4 linked regions of the Homo sapiens genome follow. The protein of the gene in region 3 purifies or fractionates together with the protein of the main gene of each other region. This does not show direct contact. Each region holds a gene or a part of one and is shown on either strand. Other genes may lie near its edges. The genes, in order: TCHP, NME7, GLUL and ASPSCR1.

What was found.
Region 1: the proteins of GLUL (region 3) and TCHP purify together in Homo sapiens (affinity purification with mass spectrometry; 4 studies listed by BioGRID and IntAct, with this or other methods). This does not show direct contact.
Region 2: the proteins of GLUL (region 3) and NME7 purify together in Homo sapiens (affinity purification with mass spectrometry; 4 studies listed by BioGRID and IntAct, with this or other methods). This does not show direct contact.
Region 4: the proteins of GLUL (region 3) and ASPSCR1 purify together in Homo sapiens (affinity purification with mass spectrometry; 4 studies listed by BioGRID and IntAct, with this or other methods). This does not show direct contact.

Annotation. Positions count from the first base shown.
Region 1 is NC_000012.12:109,895,626-109,903,273, reverse strand, and holds the start of TCHP (trichoplein keratin filament-binding protein), read right to left. Parts: upstream 3,001-7,648; 5' UTR 2,848-3,000; intron 2,698-2,847; exon of another isoform or gene 2,215-2,697; intron 248-2,214; coding exon 60-247; intron 1-59. UniProt on the Homo sapiens protein: Tumor suppressor which has the ability to inhibit cell growth and be pro-apoptotic during cell stress. Inhibits cell growth in bladder and prostate cancer cells by a down-regulation of HSPB1 by inhibiting its phosphorylation.
Region 2 is NC_000001.11:169,357,375-169,364,938, forward strand, and holds part of NME7 (nucleoside diphosphate kinase homolog 7), read right to left. Parts: intron 1-7,564. UniProt on the Homo sapiens protein: Possesses an intrinsic kinase activity. Displays 3'-5' exonuclease activity with a preference for single-stranded DNA. Does not seem to have nucleoside diphosphate kinase activity.
Region 3 is NC_000001.11:182,388,227-182,396,488, forward strand, and holds the start of GLUL (glutamine synthetase), read right to left. Parts: upstream 3,565-8,262; 5' UTR 3,453-3,564; intron 3,116-3,452; exon of another isoform or gene 2,949-3,115; intron 2,627-2,948; exon of another isoform or gene 2,271-2,626; intron 525-2,270; 5' UTR 512-524; coding exon 346-511; intron 1-345. UniProt on the Homo sapiens protein: Glutamine synthetase that catalyzes the ATP-dependent conversion of glutamate and ammonia to glutamine.
Region 4 is NC_000017.11:82,008,356-82,015,919, reverse strand, and holds part of ASPSCR1 (tether containing UBX domain for GLUT4), read right to left. Parts: intron 6,884-7,564; coding exon 6,729-6,883; intron 6,435-6,728; coding exon 6,353-6,434; intron 5,119-6,352; coding exon 5,052-5,118; intron 4,378-5,051; coding exon 4,315-4,377; intron 3,765-4,314; coding exon of another isoform or gene 3,690-3,764; coding exon 3,637-3,689; intron 846-3,636; coding exon of another isoform or gene 564-845; intron 1-563. UniProt on the Homo sapiens protein: Tethering protein that sequesters GLUT4-containing vesicles in the cytoplasm in the absence of insulin. Modulates the amount of GLUT4 that is available at the cell surface. Enhances VCP methylation catalyzed by VCPKMT.

The sequences.
Region 1 (7,648 bases), on a different chromosome or scaffold from region 3:
ATCCCCTGACCAGCAAGTGGTCCCCACTTCCATCCAATCGGCAGTTACCGCACAATTACCTCCGCTGGTAGGAGGTTTTAGAGCTCCATTCTGCCTGTTTGGAGCTGCAGATGTCAGACATCCTGAAGTAACGGCTGTTCTGCTCCCACTGCTGCCGAAGCCGGGCCTCCTGCTCTCGCTGTCGTGCTAGCTGCTGATTCAGGCGCTGCTGGCTGCACCAGTAGGACGGCAGCGTCGGGAGCGCCATCTGAGAACAGGAATGGGAGGAAAGTGAGCCACTGCAAATCCCAGGAACCCTCACCAGCTTGGCCTCATCCCTTTAACGAGTGGTCACCACCCCTTGGCTGCACAGTGAAATCAACTGGTGGAACTTTAAAACAAACAAACAAACAAAACCGTGTCTGAGCCCCACTCCAAACTAATTCAATCAAAAAACTTAGTAGGGCCCAGGCACCAGCATTTTTTAAAATGATCTGCCACTAGTGCTGCAAATCATCCTTTTAAATTTGCCGTGGCTCACGCCTGTAATCCCAGCACTTTGGGAGGCCAAGGTGGGCAGATCACGAGGTCAGGAGTTCGAGACCAGCTGCGCCAACATAGTGAAACCCCTGTCTCCACTAAAAATACAAAAAATTAGCCAGGCGTGCTGGTGGGCGTCTGTAATCCCAGCTCCTTGGGAGGCTGAGGCAGGAGAGTCACTTGAACCCAGGAGGTGGAGGTTGCAGTGAACCAAGATTGTCCCACTGCACTCCAGCCTAGGCGACAGTGCAAGACTCCATCTCAAAACACAACAAAACAAAACAAATAAACCTTAGCCAGACACAGTGGCTCATGCCTGTAATCCCAACACTTTGGGTGGCTGAGGCAGGAGGATCACTTGAGGCCGGGAGTTGGAGACCAGCCACATCATGAGACTCATCTCTATAAAAAATCAAAAATTAGCCAGGAGTGGTGGTGCGCCTGTAGTCCCAGCTACTCAGGAGGCTGAGGCAGGAGGATTGCTTGAGCCCAGGAGGTCACGGCTGTAGCGAGCCATGATAGCGCCACTGCACTCAGCCTGGGTGACAGTGAGACTCTGTCTCAAAAAAACAAAAACATAAAAAATTCTGGACTGCGTGCACCCAGCTGTGGGCCAGCCATCACCAGGAACACAACAGACAGACACAGGGATTGTCCTAAGATTGCTAGACTAGGCACATCGGGGGCATTTATGCTGTGCTTAAACAGAGACAATAATGTAAGGAACACATGTATGTGCCAAGCACTCAATACATATGACTTTTTTTCATTCTTACAATCACCTCGCTATTTGGCAGGTAAGGAAACTTACGTTGAAGAGGTAAAGTTGTTGTACCCGAGCGAGTTAGAGAAACGCCACAGTTTGAGACGAAATTAAGAGTCCTTTATTTAGCCAGTGCCCAAGAGACGGCTAATAAATTCTCTTGGCCCGAGGAAGGGGCTTGATTTTCCTTTATACTTTGGTTTAGGAAGGGGAGGGGAGCTCAGATGCAACAATTCTACATAAGTAAAAACATGCAAAAATTAAAAGGACAAAGAGTCACAGAGAAACAATTAAAAGACAAATGGTTACAGAGAAACAACAGTTCCAGGTGCAGGGGCTCTAAATCTTTCATAAAATGTTAGATATGGGTGCTCTGCCCGACACCAACTCAAGGTTTTATGGTGTTATCTTTTGAGCAAAATCCTGGGAACTTCGTACATTGCTTGTTTCAGTACCTTATCAGTTAATTGGACTCTTTGATATGTTGAGATTCTGCTTACACAAGTTAACTCCTTGAGGAAAGGGGTGGGTAAGGAGTCCTTGATGTCTTGTAAATGAGGGAACCAGATGGAGTTCATCCGGCTTTCTCAACTAAGGGAGAGCTAATTCATGTGGAAACAAGGCTAGGTGATTAAGGGGAAAAAAAGAGTCTAAAAGCAAGGTTAGTAAAAACAAGGTAAGGCATTAAAAAACAAGGTTAGTAAAAACAACGTTAAGCATTACAAAGTGATTTGCTCAGGATCACAGAGCCAGGAAGTAAAGGAGATAAACAAGCTGGGTTCCTAATTCATGTCCGTCTGAGACCAGAGCCCAGGCTCTCTCTGCTGCAAGGGGCTGCCTGTTGGGACCAACCTGCCCTGGCTCTGGCAGTCCCCGGGGAGGGGACTGATAATAACACTCGGAAGTATGTTGGGCTACCATGGAGGACAGACCTTTCATCTTGCAGATGAAGAAGCTGAGACCTAGAGAGAGGAATTGCCTGAGCAATGTAGGGATACAGCTGGAGCCTTGAAAGCAGAGAGCAGTCTCACTCCAGGCACCAATTCCCCTGACCCAAAAGCTGTCCTCAAGTGTAGGGTCGATGCAGTGCCTGGGTAGGAACGCCGGCTGAATGAGCGAAAAGGCCTGGTGCACGCCAAGAATCTCATTCTGGAGGTCCTCCAGTTTTGGGGGCAAACACTCTGCGTCTATGGTCCAAATGTAGCCGGCAGGCTGCTAACGTGTGACCTCGGTCTCGAGACCGTGGCAAGCTTCACATACTTTTTTCCCGCTCCCGTAAAGCCGCCAGTGGATCAGTCTTTGCACCAAGAGTTAAAAGTTTAAGATTCCCGTCCCGGATTGGCCACCCACAAGGTGGGCTGCTCCCCGAACACGTCGCATCCCTCTCTCGACCTGAACATGCACGTGCAACAAATGGGGTCACAGCGCGTGGGGAGCGCAGTGAGGACCCCGGAGGCGCCCTGAGCTCGCGCCCGCTGACTGCCGCCCCGGTTCCCGCCCGCGCGGGCCGCCTGCGGGCCCCCGCCCTAACGCCGGATCCGGCCTAGTCCAACCCTCCGACTCACATTTCTCTGAGGCTCGGAGTTTCCGAAGAGTCCCCCGGCCCGACTTCCCGCAGGCACGAAGCGGGCCGGCCAGTCCCCCGGTGTAATTCCCAGACGCGCTACAGCAACGCCGGCTGTTTCCTCCCTGTTTGCACCGGCAACGAGCCCGACGACGGAGCGTCGCAAGGGCCAAGCCTCCTTCAGCGCGTAGGGAGCCTGTGTTTTTCTCTGGTGCCCCGTCGTGGCCAGCGGGAGATAAATAGCAAACGTCGCTGCTCCTTGAAATAGGGAAGCATGGAGGCAAAGAATCCGTCCATGCACTACACGTATTTCAGGATGGTGGTTACCATCACGTGAAGGTGAAGGTGGAAACCAGGGGGAAGAGAATGTAAGTCAGTGGTCCTCAAACCTGGCTGCGCGTGAGAATCACCAGATACCAGCCTGGGCAACACAGAGGGACTCCTGTCTCTAAAAAATTTTTTAAACTTAACCGGGCATGGTGGGACTTGTGGTCCCAGCTACTCGGGAGACTGAGGCGGGAGGATCAGTTGAGCCCAGGAGATCGAGGCTGCCGTGAGCCATGACTGTGCCACTGCACTCCAGCCTGGGTGACAGAGCCAGACACTGTCTCAAAAAAAAGAAGAAAAAATCCAGATACCTTTAAAAAATCCAGATGCCCAAACCAAACCCCAAATCCCATCTGAGAGTATCAGTGTTTTCCAAAATTCCCCAGGTGTGTTCAATGTACAACTTGGGCAGAGGCCTGCTGGCATAAGTAGATGGAAGTTATTGGTAACTTTTTTATTTTTTTGAGACAGAGTCTTGCTCTGTCGCCAGGCTGGAGTGCAGTGGCGTGATCTCGATTCACTGCAACCTCCGCCTTACGGGTTCAAGCGATTACCCTGCCTCAGCCTACCGAGTAGCTGAGACTACAGGCGCACGCCACCACGCCCAGCTAATTTTTTGTATTTTAGTAGAGATGGGGTTTCACCATATTGGTCAGGATGGTCTCGATCTCCTGACCTCGTGATGCGCCTGCCTCAGGCTCCCAAAGTGCTAGGATTACAGGAGTGAGCCACTGCACCCGGCCGATAACTTTCTATTATAGTCTTATATTGGTGGTGAGTTCAAAAGTGTTCATTCTATTAGTATGTTTTATAACTCGTGTGCTACAAGTATTACATGCCAACTATTCCATTAAAAAGAAAATGAAGAAAAATACTTGTTTGTTCTCTTTTCTTTCATTTTCCCATTCTTTCATTTCTTCTTCCCTTCATTTCTCCATTCTTTATTCATCTCTGTTTTTCCTGGATGCAGCATCATGGCCTCAGCTGGGTTCAGTGGCTTACGCCTGTAATCCCAGCACTTTGGGAGGCCCAGGAGGGTGGATTACCTGAGGTCAGGAGTTGAAGACCAGCCTGGCCAACATGATGAAACCCCGTCTCTGCTAAAAATACAAAAATTAGCCGGGCATGATGGCAGATGCTTATACTCCCAGCTACTCGGGAGGCTGAGGCAGGAGAATCGCTTGAACCTGGGAGGCAGAGGTTGCAGTGAGCCAAGATTGCGCTGCTGCACTCCAGCCTGGGTGACAAAGTGAGACTCCACCTCCAAATTAAATAAATAAATGAATACATAAATAAATAAATAAAATTAGCAGGCTGTGGTGGTGCACACCTATAGTCCTAGCAACTTGGGAGGCTGAGGTGGGAGGATCACTTGAGCTCAGGACAAGGAGGCTGCAGTGAGCCGTGATCACACCATTGCACTCCAGCCTGAGTGACAGAGTGAGACCCTGTCTCAAAACATGGTCTCTACAGTCAGAACGCCCAGGTTTCAAGCTATACCATGCTGGTGTAGTCTTGGGCAGGTCACTTCATCTGTCTGTGCCTCAGCTTCCTAGTCCATGGAATGAGAGTAAAAATAGAGCAACTTTCAGGCCGGGCCTGGTGGCTCATGCCTGTAATCCCAGCACTTTGGGAGGCCAAGGCTGGCGGATCTCTTGAGGTCAGGAGCTTCAGACCAGCCTGGCCACATGGTGAAACCCCCGTCTCTACTAAAAATATAAAAATTAGCTGGGCGTGGTGGCAGGCACCTGTAGTCCCAGCTACTCGGGAGGCCGAGGCAGGAGAATCGCCTCAACCGAGGAGACGGGGGTTGCAGTGAGCCAAGATCATGCCACTGCACTCTAGCCTGGGCAACAGAGCAAGACTCTGTCTCAAAAAACAAAGCAAAACAAAAAATAGTGCAGCTTTCTAGGGTTGCCCGTGTGAGAATAAATGGAGCATGCCCAGGAGTAGAGCATCCAGTGCATCCCAGGTGAGCCCAAACTTGAGCCTTCCTTCACATCCCCCTTTAGTTGGCACCTGTTTAATCAGGGTCTGTCCCACTGCGTGCATAAGAGTCCTCAAGTTTCCCTCCCATTAATCCCTACCCCCTTGGGCAAATTCATGGCCACTCTTTCATGTTGTGTCCCCAGTGCAGAGGGGTGGCAGCAGCCCACTGCAGTCACTTAGCAGAGATGCCCACCCAACAAAGGAGACCAACACATAAATGTCTGTCGACAGGAACTTCATAAACACATGAATTGGACCAGGCGTGGTGGCTCACGCCTGTAATCCTAGTATTTTGGGAGGCTGAGGCAGGTGGATCATTTGAGGTCAGGAGTTCGATACCAGCCTGGCCAACGTGGCGAAACCTTGTCTCTACTAAAAATACAAAAATTAGCCAGGTGTGGTGGCATGCACTTGTAATCCCAGCTCGGGAGGCTGAGGCATGAGAATCACTTGAACCCAGGTGGCAGAGGTTGCAGTGAGCCGAGATCTGACCGCTGAACTCCAGCCTGGGCAACAGAGGGAGTCCCTGTCTCAAAAAAAAAAAAGAAAGAAAGAAAGAAAAGAAAAGAAAAAGAAATATGTGAGTTGGGGCAAGGTAAGGGAGACCTGATCCTGATTTTGTGCCTCTTGGGCAAGGCCTTTCCACTCTCTGGGCCTCAGTTTCCTCATCTGTATAATGACCAGATAAGCTCCACTAGCAGAACTTTAGGGCTTAGGGCTCGACCAGCATGCCGGAGGGCAACCATTCCTAAGTGGCCTGATCCTGGAAGCCTGAAGTCCCCAGATTACAGCCTCCATTCTCTTTTGCTGGCCAGACATCCTCACCGGCCCCCACAGTTCAACTCTGAACCTCTTGATTACACAGCTGCTGGCTGTCGCTATTAAGCAACTTTACAAGTGCCTTTTCCTTTGCTCCTCTTGGGCATTCTATGAGATATCTTATTGCCCCCATGTTAGAATTGCCTAAACTAAGCCTCGAAAAGGTGGCATGGCTTGCCTGAGGAGCCGCAGCTGATAGGTGGTTGAGCCATGATTTGAAACCAGTTCTGCCTGATCCCAGTGCCTAAGCCCTCTTGCTGCAACACAAGAGCAGGGATCATCGTGTTCCTTGCTGCATTCCCCATGCCATGCCTTGTATGTGGTAAGCACTCTATCTATCTATCTATATATCTATATCTATCTATATATATATTTGAGACAGAGTCTCACTCTATCACCCAGGCTGATGGAGTGCAGTGGTGCGAACTTGGCTCACTGCAGCCTCTGCCTCCCAGGTTCAAGCAATTCTCTTGCCTCAGCCTCTTAAGTAGCTGGGATTACAGGTGCCCGCCACCACGTCCGGCTAATTTTTGTATTTTTTTTCAGTAGAGTTGGGGTTTTGCCATGTTGCCCAGGCTGGTCTTGAACTCCTGACCTCAGGCATCAACCTCCCAAAGCGCTGGGATTACAGGCATGAACCACCATGCCCGGCCTCAATCAATATTTGTGTTGAGAATGAAAAAGTGAATGGATCCCCTATTTTGAGTACTTTCTTCTCCTCCAAAGGAAAAAGGAATCTATGGTGTTAAGAGAAAGCAAAAAGAAGAAAAGGAACGAGCATTTCTTGAACACCTGCTATGTGCCAGGTGCTTTGAGATATATTATCTCATTTAAGCCTCCCTCCAACCTGGGAGGAGTTTGTTCCTGCCCCCATTTTGCAGATGAGGGCGCTGAGGCTCAGAGAGGTGAATCAACTCTCTTGAGGTCACACAGCAAAGACTATAAAAGCCAGGATTTACAACAAACCTCTGAGACTGTGAATCCCTCTTCAGTGTGTTTTTCTGGGAGCTTGTGGCTTGCAAGTGTAGCTCTTAAAAGAGGCCTGCGGCCGGGCACAGTGGCTCACGCCTGTAATGCCAGCACTCTGGGAGGCCAAGGCGGATGGATCACTTGAGGTCAGGAGTTCGAGACCAGCCTGGGCAACATGGTGAAACCCCATCTCCACCAAAAATACAAAAATTAGCCAGGTGTGGTAGTGCGTGCCTGTAGTCCCAGCTACTCAGGAGACTGAAGCAAGAGAATCACTTGAACCTGGGAGGTAGAGGTTGCAGTGAGCCGAAATCATGCCACTGCACTCCAACCTGGGCAACAGAGTGAGACTCCATCTCAAAAAAAAGAGGCCTGCAAATGTGAACATACAAAGAATTTGGCAATATGAAATATTCAATGACAGGTCAATGACTACGGCGTGCAGGGGGCTGAGAGGGAAAGCCCTGGTAGGAACCCGCAGGTTGGAGCTGCTCCAGGACTTGTGATTTTAGGTATCCTAGCATGGGAGAAGAAAACAAGAACAGGGAGAGGGGGTGACACTATGGGAGCCGCTCTCCATTAGATGAAACATGACAGTACTGGAAGCCGCACAATGCCATCATTTAATTAGCAGGTACCGTTGTGAAGGTATGACATTTCAACACCAACCACTCCAGCTTCTTGCTTCACACCCCACC
Region 2 (7,564 bases), about 13 Mb from region 3:
TATCTGAATATAAATGCTTATTATGTCAAGTTTGATTCTAGAAGTGTTCTAATAATGCATGCCACAACCTAGGTGTTAAGGGTATTGGGAGACAAGATAAAATCATCAGGCCAATACTAATTTTTATGTGGAAATGCTAGAAAAAGTGATCATAATATTATAGAAGCCATTCATTCTTTGCATAAAAACTTGAACATTTTTAATTATGAAAAATATTCAGATATCTAAGATAGACAGATATTCACCTTTTAGAGATCTCAGTGCATGCAGTAAAATCCAATAAGGTACCTAAAAGGCAATATGGTTTAACATAAATGATAAAACTGTACTTGCCACTAGATGAAGGGATTTTCAGTTTTTCCAGAGCCGAATTTCTGAGTCTAAGTGGCAAGAAACAGACTGGGTCTGAACGGTCTCATTGTACTTTCACAGTCAAATTACTGAATAATAAAATCTCACATGACCAGCAATAAAAGTAAATGTTCCCAGCTAATCCATTTAAATTGAGTAGATATTCAGGGATCTCACACCTAATACCTGCTAAATACATATCACACATGTTTAGCTGCCCCTATCCACAAAAGTATATGACCATTATTGAAACTGGTCTCAAGACCAATCTCTGCCATTTCCCTCCCTTTTACCAGCTTTTTCTTATTTCCATTAGGAAAATGAATCTATAAGAGAAATTTAGGAAGAGGGAATTTAATATATAAAAGTAAATTTTTCAATAGCCACAAAATTGCATAACACCATTAACCTCAAATATTTATTTTTGAAGGTTGATATTTTAATCTCTTCCATTTTCCTCAACTATCTTCTCATTAGGCAGCAATCTGGTTAATATGAAAATAACACATTTCATATGTATATTACAGTTTATAAATTACTTTCATATTAACTTATTTGATCTTCACAAAAAATGCTTTAAGGTAATCTAAACAGAAAGTATTATTTTGATTTTATGGATGAGAAAATAACTATCCAAAAAGATTACATAACACACAGCTCATAAGTGCTTAAGCCAGGACTGGAATAAAGACTGAAATTTTAGATTTCTAGCTCTACATCAGTTTGTTTGTACTTCAACAAGCTACATCTTGAAAATAAGTACACAAGAGAGGACTGGAAAATCTGTCTACAAATAATAGTTAAAAAAAGGCCAACTTAATATTCTTCACTACAGTCAGACAATAAACCTTGAATTTTAACAATTTATAATAGATGTAAAACAATAATTACAAAGAAATATTGTAGGTAAGTATTAACAGTGCCTTTCATCTATAGAACATACAGTAATTTATATTTCTCTCAATATTCTGAGCAAAGCAGGTGACAGTTTTATTAAAAGTTCAAATCTATTGTTAGACATATGTATGTAATGTATAGAAATACCAGTTTAGAGTTTAGAAGAAACAGGCACCATGGTATACTGCTAGCAGAGTATTCACTGGCAAAACTATTTTGGGAGTAGTCTGGCAATGTATATTGAAAGCCTAAAAATGCACATGACCTCTCGCACCTAGTTATTTCCTTTTTAATTTATTGTAAGGAAATAATTATGGATGTCTATAAAAATGTGTTCGCAAAAATATGTTAGTATTGTGTTAACAGAACAAATTAATAAATGGATTGGTTAAATCAGAGTAAATGAAAGAATAAAACGTAGAGCTGTCCCTCAGTATTTGCAGGGGATTGGTTCCAGGACTCCTACAGATACCAGAATCCTTAGACGCTCAAGTCCCTTACATACAATGATATAGCATTTGCATATAACCTATGCATATCCTCCAGTATATTTTAATTCATCTCTAAATTACTTACAACACGTAATACAATGCAAATGCTATGTAAATACTTGTTATAGTGCTTTGTTTTTATTTGTATTTTTTATCATTGTATTGTTATTTTTTTTTTTCAAATATTTTCAATCCTCAATTGGTTGAATCTGGATGCAGAACCCATGGCTACCCAGGGCTGGCTGTAGTTCTTAAAACTGATCTGGAAAAATGCAAAAGATATATTAAGTGGGATAAAACAGATTTCTAAACAATGAATATAATAGAATCATATTTTAAAGGATATGTATCTCTGTGTGTGTGTGTATATATGTATGAGTATATATGTGACCAGGATATTACACAAAAATATTAATAGCGATTGTATACAGGCAGTGTTATTATAGATAAATGTAATTTTATTACTTTTACTTTTATATTTTCTCATTTCTAAAAATGACTAAGTAATTTTCCTATATTTCTACAACAGAATAAGTTAAATATCTTTATAAACATATATAAAACATATATAGCATATATATGTATCATGTAAATATTGAAACTATGGAAAACAAAGGATAAAAGTTGAATTTACATCTATCAGAGAGCTCTAGAGCCATTATGTGTGCATATGAAGATACATTTTAAAGAGTATAGAAATATGAAGAAGGCACAGCACATAAGATGAGTCAGGAGAGAGAACAACAGCAACTTATTAAGGCAAAGTGTCCAGTATCAGAAAATAAATGTGAATTAAGCAGTACATTTTAATAGCTACAGTTTCTCACATCTAATTAACAGAAAGTTTTAAATATTGACAACTTTGGAAGTGAAGAAGTTTAGGCAGTTTTTGAAAAAAATGTGAATACAAAGTTCATTGGGAATGCTGGAGATACTTCTGGAAAGTAAGATACTTCAATCATATGCTATAGCAGCATCAAGAAAGGTACTAGGTGAAGATCACAGCAGCAAACATAACTCCCATGTTGAAACTATAATGCATACCCATCTGGAATATGTAGCTCTGCTCGCCACACCTTAGAGTAGATATTATAGAAACAAAAAATAAGTCCAGAAATGGGAAAATAAATTATGAAATGGCAACTATAAGGGATGAAATTAGGAGTCTCTGAAGTTCAAAGACAAAAGAAGCTCAGAAAAATATTTCCCAAAGCTTATAAGATCATAAATTTTACAGATAAGATAAAAATAAGCACCAAGAGACCAAATTAATATGGCAAAAGTTTAAGGCAAATCCAAGGAAAATAAAATATTTTGATGGAATAGGTAAAATATATAAGATGTATAATACTACTGCATTTAGAATAAAATCCAAAATCCCTCCCAAGTTCCATAAGTCTCAGTATTCCTGGCTCCTTCCTGCCTCTCAGATCTCTTCTCCTCCAGCTGTCCTCTCATTCCCTAGGCCCCAGCCACACTATCTCCCTCCTGTTCCTCTAATGCACCTCTGTGCTCACTATTGACTCTGCCTGGAATGCTCTTCTCCTAGGTTTCACCTGGCAAGCTGCTTTCTATCATTGACATCTCAGCTTAAAAGTCACATCCTCATGAGGACCGTCCCTGATTGTCCTACTCAAGGCTACTTGCTCTTGGAACCAACCAATATTGCATTACTTAGTTTAATTTTCCTCATAGTACTTATCATCATATGAGGTCATCATTCGTTTATTTATTCATGTAAACTGTTTTTCTCTCAAACTAAGGAAAAAAACAATTAAAGAGTTTTATCATCAAAGAGACTTTCCCTCACCACCCCAGGCTAGTTCAGATCACTCTATTTTATTACTAACTTCCACCTCACCTTGTCATTTTTCTTTTGTAATCCAACTTATACTTGTAATTTATTTTCCAATATCTGTTTTTCTCCATAAATTCCATGAGTTAGGGGCCACTGTGTGCTATCTTATTAATCAATGTATACCCACCAGTTACCAGTATATGGAAAGTACTCAATAAATACTTTCTCGAATAGAAGAATAACTGGTGAATGAGAAAGAATTGGGAATAAAAAGGCAGAAAAAGGAAAGCAAAAATAAATAAAAAGCTACATGAAAAAAATTATGGCATTATATTAACCACTTACTATTCCGTTCTCCAAATACCACTGTTTCCTACTAAACAAGAATATAACAGGCTCTAAACTGCATTTGTAATACAATATATAGGAAAATAAACTTTTAAGAGTTTCATATCTGCAATTTATGCCCTGTGCTTTCTGATTCACTTTTTGTAAATAAAATCCTGTGGATCTTTGGAACTGCAATTCTTCCAAATCAGCAATTCAAGTAACAAAAGGAATTCTGGATGACTAAAAAGCAGATGCTGTCTGGGTGCCAAGCTTCATGCCTATAATCCCAGCAGTTTGGAAGGCCGAGGCAGGCGGATGACCTGAGATCAGGAGTTTGAGACTAGCCTGGCCAAAATGGCGAAACCCCGTCTCTACTAAAAATACAAAAGTTAGCCAGGCGTGGTGGCATGCGCCAGTAGTCCCAGCTACTCGGGAGGCTGGGGCACAAGAATTGCTTGAACCCAGGAGGCAGAGGTTGCAGTGAGTGGAAATCGCGCCACTGCACTCCACAGCCGGGTCGACAGAACAAAACTCTGTCTAAAAAAAAAAAAAGGCAGGTGCTAAAAACAAAACCAGAAAAGCTATTAGGAGAAACGTCATAAAGTTGGAAACTGAAAAGCATTTCATTTCATGGAATAAAATTTTGTTCTTCAGTAATTATGAAACTGTCTTTGAAAACTCTGTTAAAAACAACTTTGACTCATGCCTGTAATCCCAGCACTTGGGGAAGCCGAGGCAAGTGGATCACTTGAGGTCAGGAGCTCGAGACCAGCCTGGCCAACATGGTGAAACCCTGTCTCCACTAAAAACACAAAAATTAGCCAGGCATGGTGGCACATGCCTGTAATCCAAGTTACTCACAAGGTGGAGGCAGGAGAATCGCTTGAACCCAGGAGGCAGAGGTTGCAGTGACCCGAGATCACACCACTGCACTCCAGCCAGGGTGATAGAGTGAGACTGTGTCTCAAAAATAAATAAATACATAAACAAACAAACAACTTTGAGACATTTTACTTCAAAGGTTTAGATTAGTTCTTATGGAACATAGCTAATAATCTTTAAAGTCCTTTATTACACTAACAGTTCATCTGGAGTAATGATATTCTAATAAATGCTATATTTTAGAAGATACATAATATTAATATCTTTGTCAAATATATCTTAGAATTACCTTCTCTGTCCTCTTTATAATATGTAAAAGAAATTGATGAGTCCAGCATACGCTTCATCTTAAATGAGGTGTATGAGAAACATGCTAAACTATGGTTCCCTATCTCTGCTTCACAATATAAAGGTGATTCCAGAATTTGGAAGCCTCAACTATAACAAACTAGATGAAGACAGAAGCTGATTAGATAAACTGCAGTGGTCAGGAAGCCTCACCAACAGAGCAAACAACCTCCATCTTCAGCTGCTTATTGAGAGGCCATAATCCTTTGCTGCAATACATACAACAGTGGCTAGACTGAACACAGAGAAGGGACATCTGTTTCTTAGGCCTGTTCTTTCTCATAAATGATTGATGGCAAATATGGAGGAGAGTGATCTGGATGCACAAAGAAACTTGAAAATTTTACTCTAGCCAATTTTAGGCTTTCGTTAATTCAAAGCTGTATCTGCCATACAACAAGAACATTTTCACTAGATCAAAAGAGGAATAAGAATATCTGCAGGCCTTGAGATTTCAACTATTTTGCCTTTTAAACTATATATTAGCTGAACGTGGTGGCTAACATAAACATAATCCCAACACTTTGAGAGGCCAAGGTGGGAGGATCACTTGAGCCCAGGGGTCCAAGACCAGGCTGGGCAGCATAGTGAGACCCTGTCTCTGAAAAAAAAAAAAAATTAGCTGGGCATCATGGCACACACCTATTATCCTAGCTGCTCGGAAGGCTGAGGCTGGAGGATCACTTGAACTTGGGAGGTTGAGGCTGCAGTGAGCCATGATCTCACCACTACATTCCTGCTGGGTGACAGGGCAATATCCTGTCTCAAAAAAAATAAATAAATAAAAATAAAATAATAAGATAAAACAAATAAAGTATATATTATTCAAAGTACCCTGTGTCTTGAACTTTGTGGATCAGGACTCACAGTAAGAAATATATTTTACATCAGAATCCAGTACACATCCAATACATATACAATTAAACAAAAGTTCATGAACGTTACCCTTACAACATGTAGTGAATATGTTAAGTTGCTATTTTATGTCATCTTTTTAATGCTGGCTACATACCACAAATTTGAGTAATGAGTCATCAGGTACAGTTTGAGAAACACTGCTGTACGTATACGTGTGGTCTGGCCTCTGCCTACCTCCCTAACCACATTTCATGGTATTTTGCACCATATTTTCCCTACTGCAGCCACCCCTGCACCATCCCACCACCCAGTTTCTATTATTTTATTACATTGAACCATAAGTTCCTAAAATATACCAATCTCTTTTCTGCCTCAGGGTATTTGATCTTGTTGTTAGCGTGGCCTGGACTCCTCCAGATCACTGCACTTTGTATTATATTATGCAGGTCTCAATATAAAAGTTCTTTCCACAGAGAGGCCTTCATTGACCACCTAATTTGAAAGAGCCCCAGCCTGCAATCCCGGCAGGAGGAGTGGGAACAGGAGTTCATTCATTGCCCTTAGCATTCCTGGGAAGTTTGATAACATAATGTAAGACAGGCAAAAACCAAAAACAGTATTGAGCAAATGTCACTTTCTACCTCCCTATGCCATTGCACAGGTCATAGAATTCTAACTATTGAAATTCTATTCCATTTTCTTCATGACAACTTTTCTGACTCTGACTGAGAAGCAGGGACTCAATTGTACAATTTGCCCCCTATTACTTTGTATTCTCTCAGACCACTTAGCGCATTCTTTCTTATTTTGTATTCATTCCGCAAACATTTGAGTGCCTAATATGATCTAGGCAATACTGTGAACAACATAAGCATGAATTCCTCCAACAGTTCACATTTTAGTAAGAGTGACAGATCTATAAACAAATAATTTCAACCGAATGAGGCAAGTACAATAGGAGAGATGTATACTACATAAAATGGTGACAAAAAGAATGAACAATCAACCTCTTTTTCTTTTTTTCTTGATTTCACAGTGTGGAGGGGAAAGCTCTGAATATCTGCATAGATTTTAAATTTGTATTTATTTATACTTTTTTAGAGACAAGGTCTCGCTATGTTGCTCAGGCTGGCCTTGAACTCTTGGCCTCAAGCAATCCTCTGACCTCAGCCTCTTCAATAGCTGGGACTACACACATATGCCACCGCACCTGACTCGACTCAACCCTCTTTGAGTAGGGAAGGAAGGCATCACAGAAAAGACACCTACACTGGGTCTGGAAGTGAATCCACCTTTGCAAAAATTATAACAGTGAGAGAAATCTAACCTAACTGACTCCATATTGCTTCTAACCTCACAAAGCTAACTGCCCTTGCTCATACCTGGGCATAGGCAAGCTAACTATGGGAGAAATTTATAGTTTAACTTTGAAGCAAGGATGGTAATAGTCCCTTCCAAAACTGACCCCCTCTAGGGACTAAAACAGCCTTGTAAGACTAATAGAAGGCCGCAAGGTTAGGACTATGGGAGGGACCTAAAATCTGCTAAAATATAGGCATAGGTAAGCAATAACCAGCTACTGTTCCTTGCTTTTCTATAATTTCTTACT
Region 3 (8,262 bases):
GGTTAGAGCAGTGGTTTTCTGAGGGTGCCTTAGAGCCAGCTAAGTGGGGATGTCCAGGTCGGCAACCTCTAAGCCCCATGCCAACTCTCCATAAACCAGACTTAGTTTTTCTTCAATACACTGGCCTACGTGCACAATTCCATTGAAATAAAGGGTTCCATCGTCGCTCTGCTTTGAGGCAGTGTAGGAGCTTAATGTTGACTGAATAAAGTCTGAAAAGCCCTGCCTTAGAAAACCTTTACAAACAGAAGAAAGAGGCCTAATCCAGAGGCTGAGTCAAAGGCTGCTGCCCACCCCTCTGCAGATCCCACCCAGCATGTGCTCCACTCCACATTGCTGTCTCACCTTCCACACACTTGGGCTCACTGTCCAGGGTCCGGGTCTTGCAGCGCAGTCCTTCTCCAGTACCATCGATCCAGATATACATGGCCTGGACTTTCTCACCCTGAGGCAGGGACATGTACACCTGCTTGATGCCTTTATTTAAGTGGGAACTTGCTGAGGTGGTCATGGTGGAAGGTGTTCTGGAGAAGAAAAAAAGAATAACATTGTTAACGCCCACTCCAAACTGATCCCCTGCAAAAATGGCTCAAGAAGGACGACTGAATCAAAAGTCAGAGTGTAAGTGCCAACTCCTTCCCTTGTGGAAGTCAACACACAAAAAGTTATGTTTACTCACTCTTTCAGGGGGATTAGTTTTATAGTAGGCAAAAATCTCCTTTATAATAGGCTGTAAAACTGATCACCACCTTTTGAAACAATTAACACAGATGCCTGCTAAAGAAAAGATCAGGCCCTTGGTAGTAACTCAATGCCTCTGCATCCCTGAGCTCACAGGCTTAAGTTCCACAGCTACTGCAGAACCCAGGCTTCCAAGCTAGAACTTATACTTGTGAGGACTAAGGTCTATTCCTTCAGTGTAGCTGAGGTTAACACTAAACTATCCAAATACTAAACTATCAGAGGAAACAAATCAAAACCAATACACAAATTTACAAAACATAGAACTTCTTCCAATATAAGTAAAATCCAGCCACAGAACAGGCTTGGCTTCCACAGTTTGTTTTTCTCTTTGTCTTTCATCCTAGCTGTGGTCTTAACTCAAACCCACCGCCCCTCCCCACCAAAAGAAAACTCATTACACATTTAGATTTGAGGATGAAACAAGGTTACAATATATTTTTTTAGAAGGCTAGCAGTTTCCTACACAAAAGCTGATTCAAGCCAGATTCTAAGGGGAATGCTGCCATAATTTCCATAGGTCTCATGCAAAGTCTCACTTAAGATAGTGGGCAAGAATCACAACATTATGGAATTCTACAAGACTTGTCAAGTAATTAGGAAATTTCCACTTCTAAATCAAAAAGATCTGGAAATTTAAAAGCCATGAGGCATACTAATAACTGCCAGCCACTACCACAAAACCTCCGAAAGAAGAGAAACTCTCAAGCCACAACAGCCGAAGAGGAAACATTCTCTCTCTCCCTCCTCCCTCCGTGGACCAGGGTGGCTAGAAAGGGAACACATTGTTCTCCTCCAACGACTAGGGCAACGTTCTGAAGTACAGTGGCAAAGTTTCTACGGGCAACCGTCCATGTTTGCCCAGCTGAAAACATAACTGCTTCTCCCTCAGCCTCACCACCCTTCCCCTTGGGGAAGACCAACACCCCAATATTGCCTCTAGAAGACTCAGCCGGCCAAATCCTACTTCCCACCTCCATCCCAGAACCCTTTAGCTCCCGCTAAAAGCTACAACCCACCGAAGCGGGCAGATCACCTGAGGTACAAAGTTCGAGACCAGCCTGGCCAACACGATGAAACTCCCGTCTCTACTAAAAATACAAAAATTAGCCGGGCGTGGTTGTGCACGCCTGTAATCCCAGCTACTCGGGAGGCTGACACAGGAGAATCGCCTGAACCCCAGAGGCAGAGGTTGCAGTGAGCCGGGAGATTGCACCACTGCACTCCAACCTGGGTAACAGATAGAGACTCTGTCGGAAAACAAAAAAAAAAAACCTACAACCCAATTTCTCGGCTGTCCTCTCCAACATGTTACACCACCAATATCATGCACACTTTGTCCTAAGCCTCAGTTTCGGATCTCTTGCTCTTTTCCGTGAGCCGAGTTGCATGCCAGCAGCCTAGTGCCACTCTATCAACTGCTGCTGCTGCGGTGCCAAGTTTACGTGGGGGAAATGGATTCTGAAGTTTTCAGCAGTTTCTGCAGCTCCCACCAACTCCGGGGTCGTCCTCCCTGCCCCCTCACTCACCCCAGCCACAGAAAGTCAAGCGTATCGTTAGGGTTGCCCTCTTTAACCCTTCTCTTTTTGGAGTGGCGTTCGCGCCTCTCCTCTTTCTCAGACTCTAGCTGGTCCAAGCACCGGAGCTTTCTGGGAGAGGGCGATGGAGAAGGGGACAGACAGCGGCCGGCCCGGGGGGTGTCCGAACAGGCAGGTTGGTGGGTTAAGGTCTTAATCTTGACTCGAGATCTCTCCCCGGAGTTCACAGAGTAGGCGACGAAGCCGAAGCAGCTGGAGCGCGACCCGGAGGAGTCTGACTTCTCGTTGTCTTCATAATTTTCATTCGTTGCTTTCTTCGTGGACTTGCGGCTGGGGGAGGATCCCCGCTTCCCGCCCCCGAGGGAGTTATAATTATCCACTTTGAGAGCAGCCCCTTCCCACTGAAATGTCCCTAAAGTGGGCGCCCTGCCCCTCGGGCCCCCGTCCGAATCTCAGGGCCTCACGGAGGTGGCCATACCCTGCCGCCGAGGGGTTGGGGGGTCCGGGGGAGGGTGGGGGCGCAGGCCGTAGGGACTGCGCGCTGCTGCTGCCTCCGCCCGGACCGGCTTCTCCACTGACTGCGCCGAGGCCCGGGCTCTCCATTGTTCGGTCACATTGGAAGGCCCCCGGGACCCCGAGGCGGGAGCCGGCCGCCCAAACAACGCTCACCGTTACACGCCGCAATCGAGGCGTCTCAACCATCGCCAGAACCAGGACGATTGCTCCGAAGGCCCCACCACGAGGAAGGCAGCCAGGCGCCCGCGCCAACCAAGCGCCTTGTTTGCGCTCCACAGGGGACCGCACCGCCACTCCATCCACAGCGCAAACAAACCACTGCGAGCCCCAGGGCGCAGGCCGGCCCAACGGCCTCCAGGGGCGGCGCTTCGGCCGCAAGTAGTGAAAAGAAGATCAAAACAACTCACCCCGCCCTTCCCAGAGCCTGGCCAAGGGCGCGCCCCACCAGCGCCAGCCCCGACGGGTCCAAGCCACCAGCGGCGGAAGCACGCGGGAGGAGCACTCATGCCGGATCTCAGGCATGGGCCGGAGAGGCCGCAGCGTAGGGCTGGGACTGGAGGGGCAGGCAGCCGAAAAAAGAGGCTGGGCGGCGCGCCTCGCGGGGTAGCAGGGGCGGCGCGCCTCGCTTGCGTGACACCGGGCCGTCCGGGGGCTTACCTGGTCGCCGAGCAGGCGGGCGGGTAAAGCTAGGCCGCGAGAGCGAGGTTAGGAGAGGAGAGGAGGCCGCAGTACTGCTCACACGCTCCGCTCTTCTCCCACTCTCGACTCTGCAGAGCCGCCAGCAGCCCCGCACCCTTTATCCGCGGCCCGGGGCCGCCCCCGGTGCCCTGATTGGCTCCCAGCGGCCAGGAGCCCGGGCCGATCAGCTGATGCGGTCCCGGGCCCCGCGGCCATTGGGCGAGGAGCCCGGCGGGCGCCGCTGGGGTGGGGGCAAGCGAACTGGGAAAGAAAGAAAGAAAGAGAAAGGGGCGTGGGGGAGGGGCAGGGCGGCGTGGGGGAAGGGAGCGGAGCCGGGAGGGCTGAGGGCAGAGGGGCGAGTTGCCGCCAGGCCGGGAAGCCTCGGCTCGCCGCCCACCCGCCAGCTCGCCAGGTGCCGCCCCACGGCCCCCAACCCGGGGTCCCGAGGCTCCCAGCAAAGCCCGCCCTGGACCTCTGCCCTGCCGCCTTCACGGGGAATAGTTTTACGAGGAGAGCTCCCTGGGGAAATGCGGAACCAGGGAAACCGAATTTAGCCTTTTGTTGCGAGGGAGCCTCCGAGCCCCGCTTCCTGCGGGCAGGGGTTAGCTTGAGAGGGAGCGCGGGGCGCGGGACCCGAGGGAACTTTGGGCGGGCCTGGGCTAGGGCGGGTGCCGCGCGGGCCTGGGGACAGGCCGGGGTTCCCAAGGCCTGGAAGAGCCGCCCGCTCCGGCTCTCTTGGGTCTGGGGAAATAAACAGAACTCTGCCATTTCACATTTGAAATCAACGTGCTGTTTCTCTAATTTTACAGAGAGGATTCTGGAGGGCGGTAGAAACTAAGTCTGGAGACCTGTCTCATACTGCTGGCCAGACCCTAGGCAGGTCTTTCAGGGCCCAAGTTTCCTCATCTGCAAAATAAAGTGGTCATCGAAAATGACCTGTGGAGCCGCCCACTAGATTTGAAATTCTGTGTGCAAACTGCCCCCGGAGCAGCTGAAAGGAAATCGAGGTGTTCACTTGCCCCCTTTGAAGTCCAGGGATTGTCAAGAAATTCCTTTAACGAATTCTCCCTGATTTTGCTTTATCAAGTGCGGCTTCTTGTTAATCTGGAAAATGGGAATACATACCTCTCCTCTCAGCTTGCCGTGATGGTTGGGAAAATGTGTATGTGAACACAATATTGAAATGTACCTAGAGACACAACATAGGTAGGTAGGTAGGTAGGTAGGTAGATACTGCTATCCGTACTATTACTCGATCATTCTATTTTTAGTGCCTGAAATCTACCTGATGGTGTCCAGATTTTATTGCTTCTTTCAGTTTAAAGAGCAAGAATTTATGCTTCCAGTGCCTTTGGAAGAGGAAGGGAAGAAGTTTGTTCTGGTTATGTTTTGTACCGCAAATGTGGAAAAGAAATGTTGCCTGCAACCACACACACATAACTTGGCTTCTTTGGTCAACATCCCTTTCCTTTAAGAGTGTATAACACTGTAGTGCTTTTACATGACAGATGCAGCATTCATCTCAAACAGGGTTTTTTGGGATGTTTCAGACTGGTGACATTTTGGATTGGGTAAGGTGCCTTACAAATTCCTTGTTAAATTTCAGTGCTGCCCCTTGAAGCATTACATTGTGGTGGCTAAAGGCACGGCTGCAAGTCAGGTAAACCTAGGTTCAAATCTGGGCTTTCCCTTCATACCAGCTTTGTGTTGGCCAAATCACTTAGCCACATGAAGCCTGTTTCTTTGTCTATAATAAAAGAGGGATAATCATTTTTACCTCATAAAAGGATTAATTGTGATAGCACATGCAGAAGAGATTGAGTAGTCCTTGGTGCATCGTAAATGTTTAGAAAACAGCAATTATAATTATCATAGGCCAAGTTCTATAATCTGAGGTGATTGGATTCTTTCTTTCCCCATAGCGACTTTTGAATACAACTTTTCTGACTCAGTGTAATGCTTTACCATTCATTATATCAAACTGGACTTAACCTTGGTAACACAGTGAGCTGTCTTCATCTCTTTCTGTAAAGGTTTGAGTTTAAATGGTCGAGGAAGGGGAGCAAAGGAGGAGAAAAGTGATATTTTTATTTTAAAAGATGTTATTAATCATTTCCAGATACCAAACTACCGAACCATAAGCCAGAGCCTCTGCTGCACACACCACCAGCCCCTGAGGTGGGGATGACAAACATAACAGAGAACGGAATGGTAAGGCGTGAGTGCGGTTCTGCAGGCTTATGGTATTTCTGCCATTTGAGTGCCTGCTTCCCTTCCTAGATGTCTTGACCTCATTGAGCAGTTTATTCATTGTCATATCCCCCAGTAGTGTCCACGGTGAGTGTTCAATAAATGATATTTGTTAACCACACAGAAGTGACAGCAGCACCATCAAGAGAACATGTGCTTTGAGCTGCTTTTCCAAGAATGGAAATGGATTTGCTTTGATCCATTCATGTGACCAGGGGCACGCTTTGTAAGGGTTAGGAACATAATACATGACCACTGACTCTTTCAGGAGTGAACAAGAGGCCTTGTCCTCCTTGGCCAGCCCCACATTTACTTAAAATGATGAAATTAGGGCGCAGATGAGTCCAAGAACTGACCAGGGAGGCTTGAGCATAGGCGAGAAGTAAAAGCAGAAGAAAACCCTTAACTGGTTCACCCGCAGAAACCCAGACTGTACTTTTAGAGAAGTTAAAAGTAAAACAGCCTGTTTCATCCAGTTTGACTTTGCTGTGTCTGCTGCCCTTTCTTCTCCTTCCCCTTCTTCCCTAAATTGCCACCCGCCCCCATTCTTCACCCCCACCATAAAAAGAGCATTAGAATGCTTGAACCCATGAACTTTTCTGTTTCTTGGTACACACCATATCAGTGCTGACAAGGGGTTCCATTGCATGTGCTTTGAAGTCATATTTTTCTCTCTTAGAGTAGAATTGCCATGTCCAAGGGGTGGGTGGAGTGGGAGAGCAATTACAGGGAAAGATTTTGTTCCAAATCTGCAGAAATAGCCTGAGATTAAAAGTATTTCTTCAATGTTGTTCTGCTGCCTGAAATAAAAGCTTTGTATTAGGATTTTGCTCTACTCCCAAATCTTATCTCTATTAGGAAACAACTTTTCTCTTTTTTTTTTTTTTTTTTTTTTTTTTTTTTGAGACGGAGTCTTACTCTGTTGCTCAGGCTGGATGCAGTGGCGCAATCTCGGCTCACTGCAACCTCCACTCACTGTAACCTCTGCCTCCCGGGTTCAAGCAATTCTCCTGCCTCAGCCTCCCAAGGAGCTGGGATTACAGGCGTGTGCCACCACACCCAGCTAATTTTTTGGTATTTTTAGTAGAGACGAGGTTTCACCATATTGGCCAGACTTGTCTTGAACTCCTGACCTTGTGATCCGCCTGCCTCGGCCTCCCAAAGTGCTGCGATTACAGGCGTGAGCCACTGTGCCCGGCCCTTTCTCTGTCTTTTAAAGGATCCATTCTCACTCTGCAAGTATGAAGTCCTTTACCTGGGGATCTGGAGTGCCTTCCCAGGGCCTGTGTGGTTGCCTTATACACATTAGACACAAAATTTAGGGTAGGGCTCACATTGACCAAACCTTTTCTGTTTAGGAAATGGAGTTTTCCCTGTGTATGAATGATTTCAATAGGCATTCAGTGAGACCTTTAAATCATGTTAAAGAGATACAATTGAGACTCAGGGTTGGGGAACACCCTGGAAACCCAACCCAGAATTGTAAAATATTCTTTTAAAAATTATTATTATGTAATAAACCAACATCAGTTCTTTCCAAAAGAATGGACCATAGTAGAATCTTAAACCAAATCAAAATAATAATAATAAAAATGAAGAAGAAAAGAAATAGCTCTGGAAGTTGATAGCATTATTCTTAAACCATAATTTAGGGAAAAGCTGTAGTTGGCCAAGCTTTCAAATTTCACTTTATACAATTAGAGAAGGAAAGACTACATTTACATTATACTTCAGTTCAATAACTAGCACTAAGAATGGAGGAATTGTTCTTTACAGTTTTTGATTGTTTGATATTCTTCAGTTCAAGACAGGAAATTGGAAATTCACGTCTCAGCCATATCTGTAGCCTGATTTGAGTTTTGTAGGATGCGTGCTGAAATCAGTCAAATACAAGGAACACTTCATTTCCCCAACTGCGTGTTATGATGGAAGGTTTGGGTCTGTTTGAGCTCTACCCTGAATCATGTCTCTAGCAGGAAACTACGTGGAAAGTTGGGAAGAATCAAGTTCATCTTAGTTAACAACCTGGGGAAAATGTCCTATTGAGAAAATTAAAGCCATACAATTCTAGAATTAGATCTTCACATCATTCTATCTTAAAGATGAGGAACTGAGGCTTAGATAACTCATAGTAACTTGATGAAGTCATGTTTGGTTAGTATTTTAGAGCTTAATGAGCTTTCAAGGTGCTGTTCTTTTTCTGTTCCCTTTCCTTTAGTCGCTTTGGTCTGTGGGTGATCTGTTCCGGGGCCACCATCTCTAAAATACTGAAATTCCTACAGTCCTCACTGAGGGAGGTGCAGAGGACAGGGAGCAACCATTTACCTCTCAATCCTGGGTATGCTTACCCAGTGACTTCTGTATAGCAGACACTCAATATATATTTTCTTTGTGAATAACTAGATTAGCAGAAAAAAACAACACCATAGGAAAGATTCTCTTTGAAGGACTCTTTGGAGATCATTTTTCACATCTGATAATCTGCCTCCAGTTTCATTGTTTTGTGAATCGGGTTTTTTTAGATACATTTTGTCCTTTA
Region 4 (7,564 bases), on a different chromosome or scaffold from region 3:
CAAACAAGGGCCGTGAATGCTTTGAAAACCCAATTGTGCCGCCTGGGATCAAAGCCTTGTGAGCAGAGAAGGGCCTGTGGGGTGGGCAGGGGCTGCCCGAGTGGCCCTGGAGAGGCGCCGGAAGCTGGGGAGCCAGGAAGGGGGCACGGGGAGGACAGCGCCAGGAGCTGCCATGGTCTCAGCCTCTCCCAGATGGAGAGCATGCTCCGCCACCACCGGGCCTCCAAGATTCACACCCAGGCTGCGGCTGCTCACAGAAGCCCAGGGGACACTGCCCAGAGGCTGCTGTGGGCACAGGAGCCCTGGCCAGCCCCATCTGCATCCCACCTGCTGCCGGGCGAGAGGGCTCCCTCAGAGGCCACCGATGCAGAGAGGCACCTGGTTCTCATCATAGCCCCCACAGGCCAGGACCCCCAACCAGCACTGCCCCACGGGACGCACAGAAAGGGGCGGGCAGGACTCGGGAACACCAGGAGAGGGAAGTAGGCTTGGCAGCCAGGCCTGGGGCACCTGGGCTCCCTGTCTGCGCCTCTGTGCAGGGAGCACTGAGCCAGGCAGCCTACCCGGCCTGTCCCCACGTGCTTGTGCCCAGCCTTGACTCGGGAGGGATCGCCACTGCTCGGACGAGGGGATGGTGGAGAGGAGGGTCGGCAGACTGGGTGGCATGGAGGCTGACCAGTGCTTGGAGAGGCTCGGCCTCTGGATGGACCCCAAAAAAGAAGCCTCCCAGAGTCCACGTCGCCTCCATCTCCTACCACTGGCAAGCGTGTTCTCTGCTCTGGTCCCAGGCACCGTTTCAGCGAGGGACCCAGGGTGAATGGAGCCACCCGGTCACCAAGCTGGGGCTGGAAAGGGAAAGTGGGTCACACCGTCCCCCCAGCCAGAGCAGGGCCCGGGAAGGGCCTTTGAGGGAGGCACAGGCTGAGGGGCCTCTCCCCACCAGCACTGTCCCAGGATGTCTCAGGCTGCCCCTGCCTGGCTCCCTCGGCTGACAGGGAGAAGTGGGGGTGCCCGCCCTGCCCTGACACAGCCTGAGGGCCTGGAGCCGGCCCCTCCCTAGCTGCCGCCCAGGACACTGGGGCCCCAAATCCAGCCGCCTCTCTGCTGCCAACCCCTTGCCCCACTCAGTGTTGCCAGGAAGAGCTTCCGAAAGGAGGCCCACGTCAACCCCCACGGGGCAGCAACTCTGTAGGGGCTGCATGCACACGTGGCCCAGCGCCTGGCCGCCCCCTCCAACGAGAACAGCACCACCCTCCGGGGAACGAAGCCAAGAGAGGAGCCCTTGCAGCTCAAGACGCCCGGGAGGGAGGCGGCACCACAGCGCCTGGGAGGGAGGCGGCACCACCGTGCCCGGGAGGAAGGCGGCACCACAGTGCCTCGGCAGGGAGATGGCACCACAGAGCCCGGGAGGGAGGCAGCATCATGGTGTCTGGGAGGGAGGTGGCACCACGGTGCCCGGGAGAGAGAAGGCACCACGGTGCCTGGGCAGGGAGAGACGGGGCATCCACCCACAGAGCGGGAGTGGGGGCTGCAGGAGCCATCCTGCCTTCTGCAAGACCATTTGTCAACGAGGAACATTTCAGAGGGTCCAGGTGGGGTAGGGCCTGGTGGGTGGAAGGAAGGGGGCCTGTTGGTCCCAGAGAGGCCCCGGCAGTGGGCGACACGGCAGTGCAGGACGGGGCTGTCCTGGGTGGAAAGGAAGGACGACAGAACTGGCTAGGGGCGGGCGCCCAGCAGGCACTCAGGCCAGAAGTGCCAGTCACGCCCTGCCAGGTGAGTGGCTTGGGGAGTGGGGAACCAGGCAGCAAGGGTGGCCTGTGTCCTGGCAGACGGTCCCCAGAGGCAGCCTGAGAGCTCCAACAAACGGAGGGTGTTAGGAGCCAGGCTTGCCCTGCCAAAGCCAATGGAAGGAAGCCCAAACAGCAGAGCCTTTGAAGAGATAAGTGAGGTGACCGTGACATCAAAGGTGGGCCTAGCCCAGGGTGACCTTCCTCATGACCTGAGGACGCGGACCGCACACAGAAGTGACTGTGTGAGGACACCAGGGCAGGGCCAGCCCTGATGCCCAGGGCCAGGACGCAGGTTTCAGGCAGGGGCGGGGGGCTTTGTTCCCCACAGTGGTGCCCCCACACTGCTCACAATTCCCTGTCCTCACTCCTGGCCGCCTCCTCCCAGCCCTCCCAGAAAACCTGCACTCTCCTGGGCCAGGGCCACAGAGGGCTGCCGGGCTACCGGAGCCCCCACACCCACGCACGCTGTCCCTCTCGGAAGCCGGGGGCCGGCCCCTGGACATCCCCCAGGCAGCAGGCAGCCGGAGTGGGGCTCTGCCAGAGACGTGAAAGCTGGTGCTTCCGCGCCCGCCGCCTGCTTGCCTGCCAGGGAGGCAGGCTTCCTTCCCTCAGCCCCGCCAGCTCTCTGACGGCAGGCAGGCAGGCAGGCACGTCACCGGGGACACCACCCCGAGAGGCCCCGAGGCTAGAGCCGAGCTGATGGAGGGCAGGAGACGGTGGCTGGTAGGGAAGCCAAGCGTCCCCAGAAACAGGGCAGCAGCACCCCAGTGCTCTCAGGGGCCTCCCAGCGGGAGGGTGGGCTGCAGGCCTGGGCACTGGTCCTCCTCCATCCCAAGGCATCTTCCAAATTCAATGTTTATCAACTGGCTGGCCAGCAAGGGAGGGGATGGAGACGGAGGAAGGAGGCCCGGAGTCCGCCCGGCAGCTCGGGGGCTGAGAGGGGACTGTCTCACCCCTCCCCTGCCTCCGCTGCAGGGAATCCCGCTCAGTCCTGCTCCTGATCACCCCTGGCAGCTGCCAGCCTTCTTGCCCCAGCTCAGTAAGCGGCTGCAGCCCCAGGCAGTGAGCAAGCTTCTCACCTCCAACCCAGGCCTCTGTAGAGGCCTGTGGCCACTTAAAAAAAAACCCGCCTCTGTGGCTAATTAAAATATCTGAAGAGGCTTTGAAGAGGAAACCATTAGGCCAGAGGGCTTCGGAAGGCCCCAGGCAGCTCTCCCACAGGCCAAGGACAGGACATTCATTGCTTCTGGCTCTGGAGGGCGGCCCAGCAGGGCTGGGAACCCGGCACCCTCACCCTGGCCCCACCCTCAGGAGCCCTCAGGGAGGTGGCAGGGACCCACAGAAGCAGCGGACAGCTATGGGCACCAGGGCGTTCCTAGCAGGGACCGGGGGGCCAGCGGGAGAGGCCGGGCAGGGGGAAGGGGCAGCTGAAGCCCAAGGCGGCCGCCTCCAGCTGAGGGCCTGGTCCCTCTGGGGCTCCCTGAGCCCTGCTCCGAGGCCTGCCGGGCCCTTCCTCACCCAGACCCCTGGGCAGGGACTGCTGCCGCCTTGGCCCCAGCACAGCAGCCCAGGGGGGCCGAGACCTCCAAGCGGCCTCAGTTCAGGCAGGCCGCCTAGCAGGTCCTTTCCCACCCGGGGCCAGGCAGGAAGCAGAGGAGGCCGGAAAGCCGTGTCAGAAGCAACTTCAGAGGCGCACGGCCCCCTCGGAACCCACCGGCTCTCAAAGGCTTTATTATCCTGCCCCAGCGCCTGCCAGGCCCCTCCTTCCTGCCCGAGGCCTCACGCTCTCGTCCTGCCCTCCCTGGAGGGCCCCGCCCCGCAGCACCCCAGGGAGGCCCTCAGGTACCTGAAAGAGGGTCTGCGTGTGGTCGTCCAGGACTGTTTTTGGAGGGGTGATGACTGAGGAGAGAAGGCACCTACGTGTTAGGAAGCACCGTGGACCTCGCCCATCCATGCGCCCGAAGGAAGACAGGCCTGCAGATGGGGGTGACGCCTCAAGTGGGGCAGAAGAGCCCCTCACGAGCACGCCCTGTGCCCACACTCCTGCTGCAGAAACTCCAGCTGAGGGCTCGGAAGGGCCGGTGGGGGGCAGGCCCACCTGCAGGGGACACCACCCGTGCAGCCCGGCTCCCCTTGCAGTGGGCAGCCTAACCCTTTGCCACCTAGACACCCTCCAAGGGAGGCCAGCCACTCCCTGTCCACCCACCCTTCCCACAGCCCTCGGGCAGGAGTGGCCTGAGCCCCAGGGGTGGGGACCAGGCTGGGGTGCAGCAGGGCTCCAGAGGGGAGCAGGGCGCTGAGAGAGAAGGCAGGAAGCCTGGCTCCCACCGCCTGGCTCGGGGAGAAGGGCCCTCCTAGGTCTCCACACAGACACCATGGGCTGCAGGAGGCACCTGGGCGGGAGGCCACAGATGCTGCTCCTGTGGAGAAGCTGCCACGAGCCCCAGCTGGGACGGGCGGTGTGCCCACAGCACCAAGGCCCCGAGCACTGGAGGCAGGAGTGGGCTCAGGAGAAAAAACGTACACAGGTAAAATGACAGCTCGGGGTTCCCCAGGTGGCTCCTCACGAAGTCTCGCAAGTCCCCCACTGCAGAGGAGAAAAAGAACATACAGACAGCTCTTCCACCACGCCAGCCCCGGGCTGCCCCAGCACCTGGGCCACTGCTCCCACCCTCCTGGGCCTTTCCCCGAGGGGTGGGAATTCAGCCCTGTTCCTCCCACAGCACTCCAGGTGCTCGGCGTGGCTGGGCCACCGTGCGGGCCACACTTGGGACCCCCGCCCTGCTGGAGAGCACTCCCACTGCCACCCGCTGCCCCCCAGCCCCACCCCCGCCCCAGCCTAAGCGCTTCCCTTTCCCTGGGGGAGGCCCCTGTGACCTTGGGCTGCTGCCGCCCGGCCGTCTGGGTACAGGTCACAAGCCCCTGAATGTCACAGCACCACTGCCCTCCTCCCGGGGTAGGGTGCCTTCCTCTGGGTGCCCCTCTGCCCCACCCATGCCCAGTAGGTGGGCGACGTGAGCACTCAGGACCACGGGCTCCCTGAGCTGGGGCCGGGCACCTGGAGCAAGCGCCCAGCCTGCCTGACACTCTGCGAACTGGGATGCCTCTGCACCCCCAAGGGGACATCAGCACCCGCACCCACCCAGTGCCCTGGAGCCCGCAGGCCAGGTGGCTGCAGTCCTGTGGCCTGGAAGGAAGGAGCCGGGAGAGGCCCCATGGGCCCCTGCCCCCCATCCCCGGACACCCCACAGCGCTGCCCACCTGTCTCGCTGGGGCGGAAGAAGCCCTGTAGGACGTAGCGGTCGGGGAACAGGACCCTCAGAGCCACCTAGGCCAGACAAGTGGAAGGGTTGGAGGGACGGCCGGAGCTGCACCAGGGACCAGGGCGTGGCCTCCCCACTCGGCCCATGCTGGGCCATGGACACCAGGGCTGAGGCAGGCAGAAGCAGCCACCCCCAATCAGGGCCTGGGCTTTGACTCCCCCGTGGCAGGCTGGGCATGGAGACAGCCAAGTGCCGTGTGTGTGCACAGCGGCCTGCGTTCTAAAACCACACTGACCTGGGTTCAAATGTGCTGGTTTTTTTTTTTTTTTTTTTTTTTTGAGATGGAGTCTCACTCTGTCGCCCAGGCTGGAGTGCAGTGGCATGATCTCGGCTCACTGTAAGCTCCACCTCCCGGGTTCACGCCTTTCTCCTGCCTCAGCCTCCCGAGCAGCTGGGACTACAGGCGTGCGCCACCTCTCCTGACTAATTTTTTGTATTTTTAGTAGAGATGGGGTTTCACCGTGTCAGCCAGGATGGTCTCGATCTCCTGACCTCATGATCCGCCCACCTTGGCCTCCCAAAGTGCTGGGATTACAGGCGTGAGCCACCACGCCCGGCTCAAATGTGCTGTTTAAAGTTTCATTCAGCCAGGTGTGGTGGCTCAAGCCTGTAATCCCAGAACTTTGGGAGGCCGAGGCGGGCAGATCACCTGAGGTCAGGAGTTCGAGACCAGCCGGGCCAACATGGTAAAACTCCATCTCTAGTAAAAAAAAAAAAAACAACAAAAATTAGCCGAGCTAGTGGTAGCGGGTACCTGAAATCCCAGCTACTTGGGAGGCTGAGGCAGGAGAACCACTTGAACCCGGGAGGCGGAGCTTGCAGTGAGCTGAGATGGCACCACTGACTCCAGCCTGGGCGACAGAGAGAGACTCCGTCTCAAAAAAAAAAAAAGGTTTCATTCTAAATCATGAGCAGGGGAGGATCAACTGGCCACTAAGGGCATGCGCGCCACCACGGGGGGGCCCTGCTCAGAGCTGTGCCTCAGTCGCCCCCACGTCCCATCCACAGACCTCACAGGGGGCCCCCTCAGAGCTGTACCTCAGTCGCCCCCACGTCCCATCCACAGACCTCACAGGGGGCCCGCTCAGAGCTGTGCCTCAGTCGCCACCACGTCCTGTCCACAGACCTCACAGGGGGCCCGCTCAGAGCTGTGCCTCAGTCGCCCCATCCCGTCCACAGACCTCACGGGGGGCCCCCTCAGAGCTGTGCCTCAGTCGCCCCCACATCCTGTCTGCAGACCTTTGGGTAGCGCTCCAGCTTCTCCTTTATCTGCGCCTCCCTGAAGGCCTTGGTCACCAAGGGGGCTTCTTCCAGGCGCTTCCTGTGGTGAGGAGGGGAAGGAACAGGGCTTCTGGTCAGAATGGGGGCCCTGGCAACAGGCCCCGGGCTCCTCACCTGCACCCTCCAGGGTGGGAGTGGGCTGCTCTCCCCACACAAGGCAGGAAGGTCTGGACGCCCCTCCCTGGGCCCCAACCCTCTGAGGTCCTGTTAAGGGCAGCCTGTCAGGGACCTGGGCCGGGAGCCAGTGCTGGCACTGGGGACAGCGGGCAGCACAAGCACCCGATGGGGCAAACCCTGGCGCGAAGATGCCGGGAGGCACTGAGGGGGCACCCACCGCTCACTCTTGAGCTGGGCCAAGCGTCTTCTCACGTCGTCCACCGTCAGCTCAAAGAACTCATCAGGCAGCTCCGCTGGCCAGGCCTGCAGCCGCTCCTCCAGGTCGGGGTGGCACACCACCGGCTCCCGGTCCACGGGCTCCCGGTCCACGGGCTGGAGGCAGAGGGCGCGGCTGACGGCGGGTGTCACGGGCTGGGCCCTCCGCACCCCGGGCTGTCAGTGCCCCAGCCGAGGTGGTCACACAGACTTGGGAGCTGGGCCCACTCCCTCCCTGGCCCCGGCCAGCGCAGGGCCAAGGCCAGGTCCTGGGGGCAGGGCTGGGCACAGCAGCTGGGGGACCCCACCCCACTCAGAGCCTGTCCAGGGCTGGAGACCCCCCTCTCCCAGTCAGTGCACCAGACCTGATGCTGAGCCCCTGCTCCCCAGCAGGGCACATGGCCCCTGGAGTCTGGCTCAGGCCACGTCAGGGTCTCCATGGGGGGGAGGGGTGGCGACAGCCGCCAAATTAGAGCGTCGGCAAAAACCCCAGTCCAGCTGCCCCCGCTGCCCTCTTGGCCACAGCTCCATGGCCAGGCTGAATCCATGCACGCCTGCCCCCAGGGAACAAGCCGGCCCCTCCCTCTGCCCACCCTGGGATGCGGGAGGGACAGCGTCACCCCTAATTGGCATCAACAGCAATGAAATTGACAAAGCCGGGCCGTGCAGCTCGCGGAGCCCTGGGCAGTGATTTCAATGCATTCAGCACAGTGCTGGGGTACGTGGGACACCTCAGCACTGCGCCGACCCACACTCGGCCCCGTCCCCCCTCACACAGAACAGCCGAGAGCTGTCGGG